2 separate regions of the Homo sapiens genome follow, and region 2 is linked to region 1. The links come from fine-mapping of genetic effects on gene expression. A gene starts in region 1. The other region holds a variant in brackets. All regions are shown on one strand. Distances are between the middles of the regions. Region 1 holds the start of ZNF223 (zinc finger protein 223). Region 2 overlaps ZNF284 (zinc finger protein 284).

What was found. PIP is the estimated chance that this variant, and not a neighbour inherited with it, causes the effect.
Region 2: its variant is fine-mapped to the expression of ZNF223 in whole blood (TOPMed, PIP above 0.99).

What each region holds. Positions count from the first base shown.
Region 1 is chr19:44,048,323-44,056,661 of GRCh38, reverse strand. It overlaps ZNF223 (zinc finger protein 223), which reads right to left and starts at 4,626. Exons shown (of 5, transcript NM_013361.6): 1 at 4,467-4,626; 2 at 1,471-1,553. The coding sequence starts at 1,485. RefSeq lists enhancers at 4,400-4,639, 4,459-4,960 and a silencer at 4,680-4,739.
Region 2 is chr19:44,074,346-44,082,684 of GRCh38, reverse strand. It overlaps ZNF284 (zinc finger protein 284), which reads right to left. Exons shown (of 5, transcript NM_001037813.4): 2 at 6,281-6,363; 3 at 1,544-1,670; 4 at 580-672. The coding sequence starts at 6,295. Among named protein-coding and RNA genes, the nearest start is that of ZNF284, 6.4 kb to the right of the region's middle. The variant T/C (reference allele first, on the strand shown) is at 3,209.

The DNA.
Region 1 (8,339 bases):
AGATCGCAACACTGTACTCCAGCCTAGGCAACAGAGAGAGACTCTATCTCAAAAAAAAAAAAAAAAAAAAAAAAAATGGTGAGGCATTTTATGCCATAAGGAGGAATTTAGGGATTTTTTTTTTTTTTTTGAGACAGAGTCTCACTCTGTCACTCAGGCTGGAGTGCAGTGGCGCGATCTCGGCTCACTGCAAGCTCCGCCTCCTGGGTTCACGCCATTCTCCTGCCTCAGCCTGCCGAGTAGCTGGGACTACAGGCGCCCGCACCACGCCCGGCTAATTTTTTTTTTTTTTTTTTTTTTGTATTTTTAGTACAGACGGGGTTTCACCATATTAGCCAGGATGGTCTCTATCTCCTGACCTAGTGATCCACCTGCCTCAGCCTCCGAAAAAGTGCTGGGATTACAGGTGTGAGCCACCGCGCCCAGCCAAAGAAAAAATGTGTGAGGTATCTTGTGCCATAAGGAGGAATTTGGAGATAAGAACAGCTGTGGTAATCACTGTCCTTGGGTACTTGGAACAATGAGTACACCTGAGTAGGTGCCAGGTCTGGAAAAGAAGAGGTCACACCAACGCAGGACAGGGAGAAGCAGCGCCACCTATGGATGTCATCACTCAAGGGAGCACTCCAGACATCCACACAACAGGTCACCAGACCCTCAGTGGAGAATTTTTCTTTCTTCTCGTCTCTCTCTTTCACTTGAGCAGAATGGCTAACATTCCTGTTCCTTGATTGCCTCTGATTTTGAGCAGGTTTCTCATATTTCATGAGTTTAGGAGAAGAGATCAGGAACCTCCTCATTCTGCTGCTTTGAGAAGTAAATGAGTGACAGTACACAAGTGACTGGCCAATCTTCAGTATTACTAGACTTTTTTTGTTTTGTTTTCTTTTTTGAGACAGAGTTTCACTCTTGTTGCCCAGGCTGGAGTGCAATGGCCCAATCTCAGCTCACTGCAACCTCCGCCTCCCGGTTTGAAGTGATTCTCGTGCTTCAGCCTACCGAGTAGCTGGGATTACAGGCATGTACCACCATGCCCAGTTAATTTTGTATTTTTAGTAGAGATGGGGTTTCTCCATGTTGGTCAGACTGGTCTCGAACTCCTGACCTCAGGTGATCCGCCTGCCTCAGCCTCCCAAAGTGCTGGGATTACCAGTGTGAGCCACTGCACCCAGCCCAGTATTACTAGCCATTTTAAATGAAGGCTTTCTGGCTGGGTGCGGTGGCTCACGCCTATAATCCCAGCACTTTGGGAGGCCGAGGCGGGCAGATCACTTGAGGTCAGAAGTTCGATACAAGCCTGGCCAACATGATGAAACCCCATCTCCACTAATACTACAAAAATTAGCCAGGTGACAAGAGATCCTCAAAGTCCTGCTGTTCTCCTTGAGTCTTCCCAGGGCAGAGAAAAACACACAACAATCTGAGTAGTGAGATGGAATTTTAACAGTAAGAGAGGCAAGTCCTACTTACCTTGGACATGGTCATTTTTCCTCCTACTTTAGGGAATTTGCAGAGTCCTGAATGACACAGTTCCAGGGAAAGCAGAATTGTGCCTGGAAAGTGCCATGAAGACAGAAAAAGAGACATGAAAGGGTGGCCAGGGATGTCACCCACCAACAAGGACTCATATTGTCAATTAGCACATGAACGCTCACAGCAGCATTATTCATACTAACCCCAAATTGCACACAACCAAAAAGCTCTCCTACAGGTAAAGGGACAGAAAAATTGTGGCATATTCATACAATGGAATCTTATTTGGAAATGTAAAGGAATGAAATACTGACCCATGCAACAACACCCGTGAACCTTGAAAACATTACAGTAAATGAAAGAAGCAAGTCACAAAAACCCACAGACCCTACGATTCCATTTATATGAAATGTCTGGAATAGACAAGTAGAATAGAATAGAAAGTAGGTTAGCAGTTGTTCTAAATTTGAGTTGAGAATGAGGTTCAAAGTAAATGGGCATGAGGAGTCCAACTGGGGGATGAAAGTGATCTCGGCTGAATTATGATGATGATTACCCCACTTCAAAGTTCCTAAAGACCACTGAACTGACTTGTATACCTGAAATGGGTGAATGCTATAACTAAAATAAACCTAGAGTTTAAAAAAAAAACTGTTAATGCACATATCATTAGAATCAATAAGACTGGATTCTGAGTCCACATTGATAGAATATTTATAGTTGAACAAATCAATGAACCAATAGAGGAGAAATGGAAGCTCTTTTTTACAAGAAAATGCCCACTAATAATGTATTTTCCCATAAGAAACTTCATAATTTAAAAAAAAGTAACATAAGAGTGGAAAAATCTGAAAGACATCTTCTTGGCCAGTGACAAAGCTGAGATCACCAATGAAGGGACAAACGAACATCACTTGGACCTTGTTATGTTACAATGAAAAGGGCATCCTATTGCACCATTGTACCCCAGCCTGGGTGACAAGAGCAAAACTGTCTCAAACAAAAAAAAAAAAAAAGAAAAGGGCATCTTAACACTCCTGTGGAATCCCCACCAACAATGTATAATCTAAACCTAAATGTGAAATATATCTGTAGGGGAAAGAAAAAGAGATCAGGCTGTTACTGTGTCTACGTAGAAAAAGGAAGACATGAGAAACTCCATTTTGATCTGTACTAAGAAAAATTCTTCTGCCTTGAGATGCTGTTAATCTGTAACCCTAGCCCCAACCCTGTGCTCGCAGAAACATGTGTTGTATTGACTCAAGGTTTAATGGATTTAGGGCTGTGCAGGATGTGCTTTGGTAAAAATGTGTTTGCAGGCAGTATGCTTGGTAAAAGTCATTGCCATTCTCCAGTCTCGATTAACCAGGGACACCATACACTGCGGAAGGCCACAGGGACCTCTGCCCAAGAAAGCCTGGGCATTGTCCAAGGTTTCCACCCACTGAGACAGCCTGAGAGATGGCCTCGTGGGAAGGGAAAGACCTGACCGTCCCCCAGCCCGACACCCATAAGGGGTCTGTGCTGAGGAGGATTAGTGAAAGAGGAAGGCCTCTTTGCAGTTGAGGTAAGAGGAAGGCATCTGTCTCCTGCTCATCCCTGGGAATGGAATGTCTCGGTATAAAACCCAATCGTACATTCTATTTACTGAGATAGGAGAAAACCGCCTTATGGCTGGAGGTGAGACATACTGGCGGCAATACTGGTCTTTACTGCACTGAGATGTTTGTGTAAAGTCACACATAAATCTGGCCTATGTGCACATCCAGGCACAACTCCTTTCCTTAAACTTATTTATGACAGAGTCCTTTGCTCACATGTTTTCCGGCTGACCCTCTCCCCACCATTACCCTATAGTCCTTCCACATCCCCCTCACCAAGATAGTAGAGATAGTGATCAATAAATACTGAGGGAACTCAGAGACCAGTGCCGGTACAGGTCCTCATTTGCTGAGCGCCGGTCCCCTGGGCCCACTTTTCTTCCTCTATACTTTGTGTCTGTGTCTTATTTCTTTTCTCAGTTTCTCATTTCCACCTTGTGAGAAACACCCACAGGTGTGGAGAGGCAGGCCCCCTTCAATATCAAACTCCAAATGAACAACTATGGAAATGTGACAGCTAAAGACAACGCATAAACTGGACTTTGAATAGGTGAAGGGTGGGGCAGAGGACAGTCATAAGGACTTTAAATGAAAAATTTAACAAATTCGTATATGGAACTGCAGATTAGATAACATGATGCTAGGTAATATGCTATCCAACACTATCTAGTAAGTACACTACAAATACTAGTATTCTTTTAACACATCTATCTGACATGTAATCGGTAACAGTATTATTTAACATAATATCCAATATTATCTACCATGTTATGTGAAACCCTATAACCAGCCCTTCCTAAATGCCTCTTACCAAGACACCCCACAATTACCGTGGTATGTGGGCTTCCTTGCTGCAGAAAGCTACCAATCAGCTGTCTCTGGTTACAGGTATGTTCCTGGTGGTATTTGGTTGATGGTCATCAACAAAGCAAACAGGAAAAATGTAAACACTTGGCAAATTTGGGTAAAGGGTATATGAGAATTTCTTATACTGTTTTTGCAATTTTTCTATAGCTTTGAAATGATATCAAACGTTTTAAAATATCAGGCAACAAGAGACCACTCACCAAGTGACAGGGACAACTTTAAGGCTTTCATTTGTATTATCTCTTTCAATTCGCAAAACAATTCTATTAGGATGACCCTATAAGCACCATTTTAAAGAACAGCAATGGGAAGTACAGAGACATTAACATTCCACATCACACTGCGAGAAAGAGTGTACACACTGCATACGTAGGGAGGCGGACTGAGCGAGGTCAAAGTCCTGGAAACCCTCAGAGCAGGGCACACAAGGCCACCCCAATCCCACCCCCCGGGAGGCGAGCAAAGCCCCCCGACGCCAGAAGGCTCCGCTGACGGGAACAATAAACACCCTCCCCGCCCTCGCACCTCTAAACCTCTGCTCTTCGCCAAGGCTTCTTTTCCCCTGAGACGATCATCGATCATCGGGTGGTTGCGAGCCTCAAGCAAAGGGGGTTCGTTCAAAATGTCCTGCAAGACGCAGAAATGGCTCAAACTACCCCGGTCATTAAAGCAGGAACCTCAGACTAGGAGACCGGAAGTGTCCTCTCTGCGCCAGAGTGTCTGGACTCCACTCCCCAGAATTCCCCGGACCCGCCCCCCTGAGCCAAAGGGCCCGGGACTCCGCAGAGTGTCTGGACTATCGTTCCCAGAATTCAACGGTTCACCTGCCAGAGCCAAAATACCCAGTGTTCCACGAGCCAGTGGACTACACTTCCCGTAAAATGGACTACTCTTCCCAGAATTCTCCGGAAACGCCTACCTGAGCTGAAGTATCAGGAATCCCGCAAGGTGTCTGGACTGCAGAGCCTCAGATGCAAAAGGAAAATGTCCATCACCTCACCCTTTAGGCTCAAGTGTTGCGACTACATGGTGCTCCTCGATTACACTTCCCGCAACACCCACGGGGAACGAATTTCATAGCCCCAGGTTCCTGGTGGGGAATGCAGACTGTTACCCTGACAGTTGTCCTTCCCAGAGTCCTCGAGCGAAAATATTGAATAGAAAGAATTTATGAAGTCTAAATGTCTCCCATGATTGACAGGAGTGTTCTTGGACAGGGAACAAGCGAGGAGATACAATATTCAAGGAGCTAGATAGAGTGACTGTTGAGCCGTCAGATGGCTGAAAGGAGGCTCAGGGTTTAAAGCAAGGATATCCAACTCCAGGGCCACAGACCTGTACCGGTCCACTGACTGTTAGGAACCGGGCGGCACAGCAGGAAGTGAGCGGCAGGTGAGGGAGCATTATGGCCTGAGCTCCACCTCCTGTGAGATCAGCCCAGCATTACATTCTCATAGGAGCGCGGATCCTATTGTGAACTGTGCGTGCGAAGGATCTAGGTCAGGCGCTCCTTATGAGAATCTAATGGCTGAGGTGGAACAGTTTCATCCCGAAACCATTCCCCAGTCCGTGGAAAAATTGTCTTCCACAAAACCGGTCCATGGTGCTAAAACGGTTGGGGACCACTGGTTTAAAGAATGAGCCAGGTAGAATGGGTTGGGAGGGGCAATGAGAAGCCAGGAAAGCATCAGCCCCTGTAACTGAAAAGTAGATCAGTGGCTTCCCGTTTGCAACGTCCAGTTAACAAGAGGGAGATCTGGTATAAAGAAAGTGATTTATTCTAGAGCTAGCGTAGGGGAAGTAGCACAGGTGTTGTCTTTAAGTGCACGGCTTGGCTTTTAGAGCAGAAAGCAGGCACTTTTAAAAGGTAGGGGAGGAAGAGGGAAGGGGTCTGTGTGCTGGCTTGGTGCCTTATCTATTAGGCAGTTGAGCTGGCTTTTTCATGGGCAGAAATAAGTTGTAACCAGAAGGGAGAGAGTAGCAGGCACGCTTTCAACTGTTGTCTCTTCAGGCAACCTCCTGGTGAGTGAGAGTTCAGAGGCCAGCATGCTTTAGTTTGTAAATTGACTGTTAATTCTGGAGGAGAGTTCTGGCTTGGAGCACACAGTTAGATGAACTTTCCCTGTAGGAAGTGTCTGGTGAAGGGGAGGTAAAAGTCTATATTTGCATTTTTAAAGGGCTACATAGGAAGTGGGGAACTAAGGGAATGAGAAAAGAGAGAGAAATAAATAAGCTGTCTCTTAGAAAAATGGTGGTTCTCAGTTACAGCCCTAGTCCAGATGCTGTGGTACCACTGGTTTGACAGGAAAAACAAAATTCCAGCCACCAATGGAGAAGCTGTGTCCTCATGGAAAAGCTACATTTAACATTCTCATGGTAGTAATATTTCTACTTTAGATGTAGAAACGCTAAATTTCAGAGAAGTTAGTGAATTGCTAAGTATCTTAAAGCAAGTATAACTGTTGAAGAGCTTGGCATTGGTATCAATCTGACACCCAATGTCTGATTCAATGCCATAAAACTGGAGAAGATTCTATAGGTGACGGAGCATGATTTATTATTAAGAGTTTCTTCCTTTCCATTTCTTGGTTAAAATATCTTCATTATAGGAAACAATTTGAAAACTGGCATATGTTAGTTGAAAGACATTAATAATAGTATAAAGCTAAATCAGGAAACAATTCATCTAAAATTCTCTTTTGAAGATAAACCATATTTTTTGTCCTCCCAAATAAACATACATTGACCTGTCGACCTATATTTTTCTTTTTAAAAAGAGTCTAATGTCCTGTATCCATTTTCCTAAAGTAAAAAAAAATAAAAAAAAATTAAAAAAAGACTGTTCACAATTTTTTTTTGATACAGAGTCTTGCTGTTTTGCCCAGGCCAGAGTGCAGTGCGCGATCTCGGCTCACTGCAACCTCTGCTTCCTGGGTTCAAGTGATTCTCCTGCCTCAGCCTCCCAAGTAGCTGGGACTACAGGCATGTGCCACTACGCCTGGCTAATTTTTTGTATTTTTAGTAGAGATGGGGGTTTCACTGTGTTAGCCAGGATGGTCTCAATCTCCTGACCTCGTGATCTGCCCACCTTGGCCTCCCAAAGTGCTGGGATTACAGGTGTGAGCCACTGCACCTGGCTGACGTTTCACAGTTTGGTTTGGACAAAAATTAAGGTGACTGAGCAACCACATAGTGCCAAACAAATTTTCAATGCCCCCTTGAAAATTGAGTGATGGCTATTCCTATACCAATTACAGCTGTATCCTTACTCTACTCTGCATTCACAAAAGATAAAATTTATTGATACTCTCAGTGGTAGTGTATGCAAGGAGCTGAGCCTGAGATGTTAGGCGGCACCTGGCATCAAAGGTCCCTGCTGTTGCCCACGTCCCTGTGCTCTGGGCCTCTGATGGGAGGAGCAGCCTCCAAGATCTGTGAAATACTTCTGGGGTCATTCTTCCATTGTCTTGGACAATAGGTCCTGGTTTGAGTCAACATGGTCAATCCATACTAATCTCATAAATCAGTTGTTCAGCCACACCCTTGTTTTCTCCAGGACAGGGTTTTGCATGTTTTCCAAAGTAGATAAGCTGCAAATTTTAAAAGTATTTAGTTCTCTTTACCTTTTAATTAGTAATTCCGGCTTTCAGTCACTTCTCACTTTCTACATTTTACTATAGGTAGTCAAGATTATTCAAGATGCAACTTCAACACATTGTTAAGAAATAGTGTCAGCTAAATATTCAATTACATTGCTCACAAGTTCTACCTACCAAAAAACACTAGGACCTGAATATAATTCAGCCAAATTATTTACCCCTTTATAACAAGAACCCCGCTTTCTTCAGTTTCCAGTAACATGTTCCACATTTCTGACTGAGGTCTCATCATAATGGCCTTTACTGTCCATATTTCTATCAACATTCTGATCGTGACCACATAGGTTTACTCTAAGAAGACTGATGCTTTCTCTAGCTCTCATTCTGTCCTTCTGAGCCCTAACCAGAATTGTCTTTAACAGTCCAATCATGACAATGTAGGTTTTTCCTAGCATGCATTTCAGAAGTCTCCCAGCCTCTACCCATTATACAGTCACAAAGATACTTCCACATTTTTAGATATTTGTTACAACAGCAATCCCACTTCTCAATACCAATATTCTTAGTCACAAAAAACCATGGGCTAGCTGGCTTATAAGCAACAGAAACTTATTCCTCACAATCAAGGCACTGGGAGATTTTATGTCTGAAGTGGGGCTGCTTTCTGGTTCATAGGTGGCACCTTGTTGCAATGTCCTCAAATGGTGGAAGTGATGAACAAGTTTCCTCAGGTCTCTTTTACAAAGGGACTCATCCCATTAATAAGAGTTCTGCCCTCATAATCTAATCACCCTCCAAA
Region 2 (8,339 bases), 26 kb before region 1:
ATTGGTAAATTAAAGTGAAGGCTTCTCCCCAAGAACATCTAGACAGGAACAAAGCCCTAGGGACACCCTGATTTTTGTCCAGTGAGATGTGTCAGACTTCAGATCTGAAGAACAGAAAGATAATTGTTTGTTGTTTAATCTGCTAAGTGTGTGGTCACTGGGTGACAGCAACAGGCAATACAGTGTCCTTGGCAGGATGGAGAAACAGCAGGGAGTACAACGTGGCTGGAAAATGGAGATGTAGTCAGAGAGGCAGTAGGGGATGAAGAGCAGATCAAGGGTCTCTAAAAGGCACTTAAAGCAGTTGTAACATTAACACAAATAAGAAGCCATAAAGGCTTTTAAGCTGAGGAATGGCAATCTGACTTACATTCCCTAAGGATCACTTTGGCTGCTATGAGGAAAACAGATGTCAGGGTGGGAAGAGGGGGTGGGGGAGCAGGACAACCAGCAGGAAGGAGGTAAGAATCCAGGAAACAGGTTTGGCCATTTATACCAGGGCAATGGAGTTGGGCAATGGACAGAAGTAAAACAGATGGAAGGGTCACGTACAAGGATGCATCGTTGCTTGGTTCTTACCTGAATTCCCTTCTCTTTGGGTTGCTGTCTCCATGATCCAAAACTTTTCTTCTCTTTGGAAGTGAAAAGTATCTCGGTGGGAAAGTTGATGCCCTGTGAACAAAGTCACATGCTTAATCCCAATACATCTTAGGTAAAATTTACTAGAAATTTAGGTTCTCACTGCACACTCGAACTTGAACACTGATATGGTTTGGCGGTGTCCCCAAATCTCATCTTGAATTGTAGTTCCCATAATCCCCACATGTCATAAGAGGGAGCTGGTGGGAGGTAATTAAATCATGGGGGCAGTTTCCTCCATGCTGTTCTCGTGATAGTGGATGAGTTCTCACGAGATCTGATGGTTTTATTTTATTTATGTTTTTTGTTTTTGTTTTTGTTTTTGTTTTTTTTTGAGACGGAGTCTCGCTCTGTCGCCCAGGCTGGAGTGCAGTGATGCGATCTCGGCTCACTGCAAGCTCCGCCTCCCAGGTTCACGCCATTTACCCGCCTCAGCCTCCTGAGTAGCTGGGACTACAGACGCCCGCCACCACGCCCGGCAATTTTTTTTGTATTTTTAGTAGAGACGGGGTTTCACCGTGTTAGCCAGAATGGTCTCCATCTCCCAACCTCGTGATCTGCCCTCCTTGGCCTCCCAAAGTGCTGGGATTACAGGCATGAGCCACCGCGCCCGGCCCTATCTGATGGTTTTATAAGGGGCCTTTTCCCCTTTGCTCGGCACTTCTTCCTGCTGCAATATGAAAAAGGTGCCTTTCTTCCCATCGGCTTTCCACCATGACTGTAAGTTTCCTGAGGCTTTACCAGCCATGCAGAACTGTGAGTCAATGAAATGTCTTTTCTTTATAAATTACCCAGTCTTGGGTATTTCTTCATAGCAGCATAAGAACAAACTAACACAAACACCCTAGGATACAAAGCCATTCCTGGGGCCTGATGTTCCATTACAGAGGGTGCCTGTGCTCACCCACTGATAGCAGGTTTCTGAAGTTCTCCAGCATGACATCTCGATACAGCTTCCTCTGGGAAACGTCCAGCAGCCCCAGCTCCTCCTCGGTGAAGACCACAGCCACATCCTTGAAGGTCACTGCCTCCTACAACAACAAACGTATGCAATCTCAATCTCATGACCAGTGATTCCTGGGAGAAGGGTGGCAATGAGCAGGTGAAGGGGATGGGTGAGAAGTTGCTGTGGATCTTGAAAGATGTAGGTCAACATACAGATTTCCCATTCATTCTGTCTGTATCCTCGCAATGACACTGATTTTCCAGAGCTCCACCAGAAGTGCAATGATGAAAAAGTCCCATAGGTTTACTTTGTGCACTTATTAAGTCTCCTTGTAAGTAACCCTCTAGGACTCTAAATGCAGCATCCTGGGCTGCACATATATAGGTTTCAATGAATCTTGCCAGTTGCTCCAGCAACATTTAGCAATTCAGTCTTAACTTTGTTTGACAATGCCCAGGGTTCTCGTACTTGAACCCTGGATGTAATCATTTTTCTTTCTTTCTTTTTATTTTTTGAGACAGAGTCTCACTCTGTCGCCCAGGCTGGAGTGCAGTGGTGCGATTTCAGCTCACTGCAACCCCTGCCTCCTGGATTCAAGCAATTCTCCTGCCTCAGCCTCCTGAATAGCTGGGATTATAGGCACCTGCCACCATGCCCAGCTAATTTTGTATTTTTAGTAGAGACCATGTTGGCCAGGCTGGTCACGAACTCCCGACCTCAGGCGATTTGCCGGCCTCGGCCTCCCAAAGCGCTGGGATTACAGGCATGAGCCACCACACCCGGCCCATTTTTTTTTTAATATCTGCCAAACTAACAAGTTTACAGTGACCTGTGTGGGACAGCCATGGAGTGGGTCCTCTGTATTCAAGACGCAAACTACATATATTAATTGCAGCACTGAATGTCATGATCTGGAGCCAGTGTGCCTATGATCACACTGAGTGTGTGTGCTCACTCACAAGGCTCAATCCCAAGGCTCTGTGCCTTTGCCTTCCCAGCCACGTGACCTTGGATAAGTTTGCCTACATGCATTCGTTTCCTTTCTGTATAAAGACTGTCACATCAGTTTTCTCCAGGAATAAGCAAGAGAATATAAATGGGGAAAGTCTGTGGCACAGACTAGGTATTTAATTAACATTAGTTAATTTTATTACCTTTTTGTCTTTTTTTTGAGACGGAGTTTCGCTCTTGTTGCCCAGGCTGGAGTGCAATGGCGCAAACTCAGCTCACGGCAACCTCCACCTCCCCAGTTCAAGCAATTCTCCTGCCCCAGCCTCCTGAATAGCTGGGATTACAAGCATGCGCCACCATGCCCAGCTAGTTTTGTATTTTTAGTAGAGATGGGGTTTCTCTTTTTTTGCTGTTTTTTGTTTTGTTTTGTTTTGTTTTTTTTGAGATGGAGTCTCACTCTGTCCCCAGGCTGGAGTGCAGTGGTGCAATCTCAGCTAACGCAAGCTCCGCCTCCTGGGTTCACACCATTCTCCTGCCTCAGCCTCCCGAGTAGCTGGGACTACAGGCGCCCACCACCACACCCGGCTAATGTTTTGTATTTTTAGTAGAGACAGGGTTGCATCATGTTAGCCAGGATGGTCTCGATCTCCTCACCTCGTGATCCGCCTGCCT[T/C]GGCCTCCCAAAGTGCTGGGATTACAGGCATGAGCCACCACACCCGGTGGAGATGGGGTTTCTCCATGTTGGTCAGGCTGGTCTCAAACTCCCGACCTCAGGTGATCTGCCCACCTCAGCCCCGCAAAGTGCTGGGAATATGGGCGTGAGCCACCGCACCTGGCTGGTAATGTCCTTTATTCGTATTTCTTTGGATTTTTTATTATAACTTTCATTATAGTTATCTATTTCATTTCATGTCTGCATACTATTACAGGGAACTGATGATCTATCTTTATTCTAAATAATGAATATTTAATTTTATGTAGTTTTCATTAATACCAATCCTGCAAAGAAAATCATGTATGTGGACCTTACTCTCCCGTCTGATCATTGAAAATAATTTTGGCCAGGTATGGTGGCTCATGCCTGTAATCCCAGCACTTTTGGAGGCCGAGACAAGCAAATCATTTGACCTCTGGAGTTCGAGACCAGCCTTGGCAACATAGCAAAACTCCGTCTCTACAAAATATACAAAAATTAGCCGAGCATGGTGGCACGTGACTATAATCCCAGACACTTGGGAGGCTGATACAGAAGAATCGTTTGAACCCAGGAGGCGGAGGTTGTAGTGAGCCAAGATTGCGCCACTGCACTCCAGCCTGGGCAACACAGCAAGACTCTATTTCAAAAAAGAAATAAAATAAAATAATAATTTAGTTTAATTTAATAATTTCAAACCAGGTGCAGTGATTCACACCTGTAATCCCAGTGCTTTAAGAGGCTAAGGTGGGGGGATTGCTTGAATTCAAGAGTTCAAGACCAGACCAGGCAACACAGCAAGACACCAACTTTATAAATTTTTAAAACTAGCCAGGCATCGTGGTGCGTGCCCGTAGTCCTAGCTACTTGGGAGGCTGGGGCAGGAAGATCTGGACCCCAGGGGTTCAAGGCTGCAGTGGGCTACACTTACATCACTGTACTCTATCCGAGGCAACAGAGCAAAACTCTGTCTCTAAAGAATAAGAATAAACTATAATACAATAATTTCAAATGAAAATTAAAGTGTCAAAAAATAAGAATGTTTAAAATTGTGATCATATATGTCAGATCTCAATTTTTTCTCAAACTCCAAAATCTTTCAAGGGGATATATTACCCTGGTTTTTCTTAAAATAGCCAAAAGCAGATTATCAAATTTCCTGTGATTTTGATAATCTCATTAGAGAGAATTCACCTTATTAATCCCATGTATTTGAATATAAATAATACTATCACCTTTTCAAATATGTATTGGCCACTTCTATTTCTTCTCTAAAATTTACCAATTAATGTATTAATGTCCTTTATTCATATTCCTTTGAATTTTTTTCTCCATTCTGTACATAAGATTCTTATTTTGGATTATGTCTTTTTTAGATATCAAAGTGGTAAATATTTTCACCTTAGGCTGTTATATTCCCTGGTAACACTCTATAAGCCATCTTTGCCATTAGGAATTTAAAGATTTTCTATAGTGAGTGTAGCAATCACTGTCCTTTGGTGCCTGGAGTACTAGGTGCACCTGAGGAGGTGGCACAACAGGAAGAGAAGAGGACCCCCGAGGAGGGGTCAGGGAGGAGCTATGTCACCAGTGGTTGTCATCACTCAAGAGGGCACTCCAGACACCCATACCAGAAGGCATAGGTCCTTCAATGGAGAATCCTCTTTCTTCTTCTCTCTCTCTTTCAATTTAGCAAAATAGCTAACATGCCGACCCTAGGTTTCCTCTCTGAACCTCAGCAGGTTTCTCATATTTCACATATTTAAGAGGAAGATGAGGCTGAGAACTGCATCATTCAGCTGTTCTGAGGAACAAACAAAGGAATAGAACACAGTGACTAGAGAATCTTCTGATATCATGGACATTTGAAACTAAAGCTACCAAAACTAAAAAACTAAAAAAAAAAAAAAAAAAAAAAAAGACAGAAAAATGATTACATCCAGGGTTCAAGTACGAGAACCCTGGGCATTATCAAACAAAGTTGAGACTGAATTGCTAAATGTTGCTGGAGCAACTGGCAAGATTCACCGAAACCGATATATGTGCAGCCCAGGATGCTGCATTTTGGTCAAACTCCTTAATACATAAAGGAATAAGAAAAGACCAGTAAATAACATACACACAATGCATGACTTAAGCATGGGGAAAACAAAAGCTAGCTCTTCCTATGTGAAAATCTCCAGAAATCCTTGTGTGAAGCCACAGTTACAGCCTGCTGTGCCATGCCACATATGGATATTTTATCTACAAAACAACCAACGTGGCACATGTCAAAAGTACTCTTTCAAAACTGAGCTCCTAGTGCCTGTGAGTATAAAGTAGTTAAAAAGAAACATCGGCAGGTGCAGTGGTGCACACCTGTAATCCCAGCACTTTGGGAGGCTGAGGCAGGCAGACCACTTGAGGCCGGGAGTTCAAGACCAGCCTGGCCAACATGGTGAAACCCCGTCTCTACTAAAAATACATATATTAGCCAAGTGTGGTGGTGAGCGCCTGTAATCCCAGCTACTTGAGAGGCTGGGGCAGGAGAATCGCTTGAACCCGGGAGGCGGAGGTTGCAGTGAGCCGAGATTGCGCCACCACACTCCAGTCTGGGCAACAGAGCAAGGCTCTGTCTCGAGGAAAAAAAAAAAAAAAGGAGCATCAATTCAATGGGAACATGATGCAACCATAAATAATGAATATTACATAATATTAAACACAAAGAACACAATTTAAATTAGATAAGTATCAATACAAATACAGTTATGAATATACATGAGGAATAGCATGAGAAAATAAAAATGCCTAATTAGTGAGAAAAGATGTAGTGAAATGGGAGAATTGTTCCTTCCCACTAAATTTCTACTCATAACATAAATAATGGTAAAAGTAAACAAAATCAAATCCAAACGCAAATTCAACACAAAAGAAACAAGGAAGCATCTGGCACACAACAGGTGCACAAATAACTGTTGTTCTCCTTGAGTCTTCCCAAGACCGAGAAAAACATGTGACAATCTTAAGTAGCAAAACAGAATCTGAACAGCAAAAGAGACCAGACTTACTCACCTTGAACATGGTCATTTTTCCTCCTTCTTTGGGGAATTTGCAGAGTTCTCAGTTATGCAGTTCAAGAGAAGACAGAATTGTGCCTGAAACATGCCATGGAAGGCAAAAAAAAAAAAAGAGACATGAAGGGGTGGTCAGTGATGCCACCCAACAGTATGAACATGTGTTGTGAATTAGCACTTGAATGTTCACAGGGGCATTATTCATAATAACCCAAAATTGCACACAACCAAAATGCCTTCCTATGGGTAAATGGACAAATTGTCGCCTATCCATACAATGAAATCTTACTTGGAAATTTAAAGAAATGAAATATTGACTCATGCTACAACATGCATGAACCCTGGAAACATTATGTTAAATGAAAGAAGGCAGTCACAAAAACCCATGGACTGTGTGATCGCATTTATATGAAATGTTCAGAATAGGCAAATGTATCATAGAGAAAGTAGATTAGTGGTTGCTTCACATTTGAGATGAGAATGAGGTTTAACTATAAATGGGCACAAGGAGTCCAACTGGGAGATAAAAATGATCTAAACTGAATCATGATCATGGTTATTCCACTTCACAAAATTCCTAAAAATCACGGAGTTCCATGCCTGAAATGGGTGAAAGCTATATGTGAAATACATCTTGATAGAATTGGAAAAAATAATTGTTAATCTACATGTCATTGAAATCAGTAAGACTGAATTCTGAGTCCATATCAATAGAATATTTATAGTTGAATGAAGGAATGAATAAATGGGGGAGAAATGGAAACTCTTCTTTACAGTAGAATGTCCACTAATCATGTATCTCCCCATAAGGAACTTTATTATTTTCAAAATTTAAAAAAAGTAACTTCACAGTGGACAAATCTGAAAGACTTCATCTTGGCCAAGTGAACAAAGTTGAGATCACCAGTGAAGGGACAAACCAACATCATTTGGACACTGTTAGGTTGCAATGAAAAGGACATCTCACCACTACTATGGTATCCCTGCCAATCATGCATACTCTAAACGTAAACATGAAATTTACCAGACAAACCCCAAATGAATGTCTTTCTGCAAAACAACTTGCCTATACTCTTCAAAAAACCATGCATATAAAAGACAAAGGCTGTGGAATCCTTCTAGATTAAACAAAAGTATAGAAATGTGACAATAAAGACAATGCATAAAATTGGACTTTGAATGGGGTTACAGGTAAAAAGTGGGGCAAGGGATAGTTATAAGGACCAAAAGAAGAAACTGAATAAATTTAAATATGGAAGCTGCAGATTAGATAACAACGTTATGTAATATGGTATCCAACACTATCTAATAAATGACACTACAACTACTATTATTAGCTTTTTAACAGATGTGATATGTAATAGATAACAATATTATTTAATATAATATTTAATTATTTTTTTGAGACAGAGTCTCACTCTGTCATCCAGATCAGAGTGCAGGGGCGCCATCTCAGCTCACTGCAGCCTCTGCCTCCCAGGTTCAAATGATTCTTATGCGTCAGCCTCCCTAATAGCTGGGATTACAGGCGCACGCCCCCTCAAATTTTAAAAAAGTAACTTCACAGTGGACAAATCAGCTAATTTTTGTATTTTTAGTAGAGATGGGGTTTCTCCATGTTGGCCAGGCTGGTCTTGAACTCCTGGCCTCAAGTGATCCACCTGCCTCGGCCTCCCAAAGTGCTACAATTACAGACATAAGCCACCATGCCTAGCCAGTATAATATCTAATAGTATCTAGCATGTTATGTGAAACCCTATAACCAGCCCTTTCTAAACACCTCTTACCAAGACACCCCACAATTATCTTGAAATGTGGGCTTCTTTGCTGCAGAAAGCTACAAGCAACTGTCTCTGGCTACAGGTATGTTCCTGGTGGTATCTGGGTGATCAGCAAGAACAAAGCAAACAGGAAAAATGTAAACATTTGGCAAATTTGGGTAAAGAGTATATGAGAATTTCTAACACTATTTTTGCAATTTTTCTATAGGTTTCAAATGATATGAAAATAAAACGTTAAATATTTTTTTTTTTTGAGACCGGGAGGCAGAGGATGCA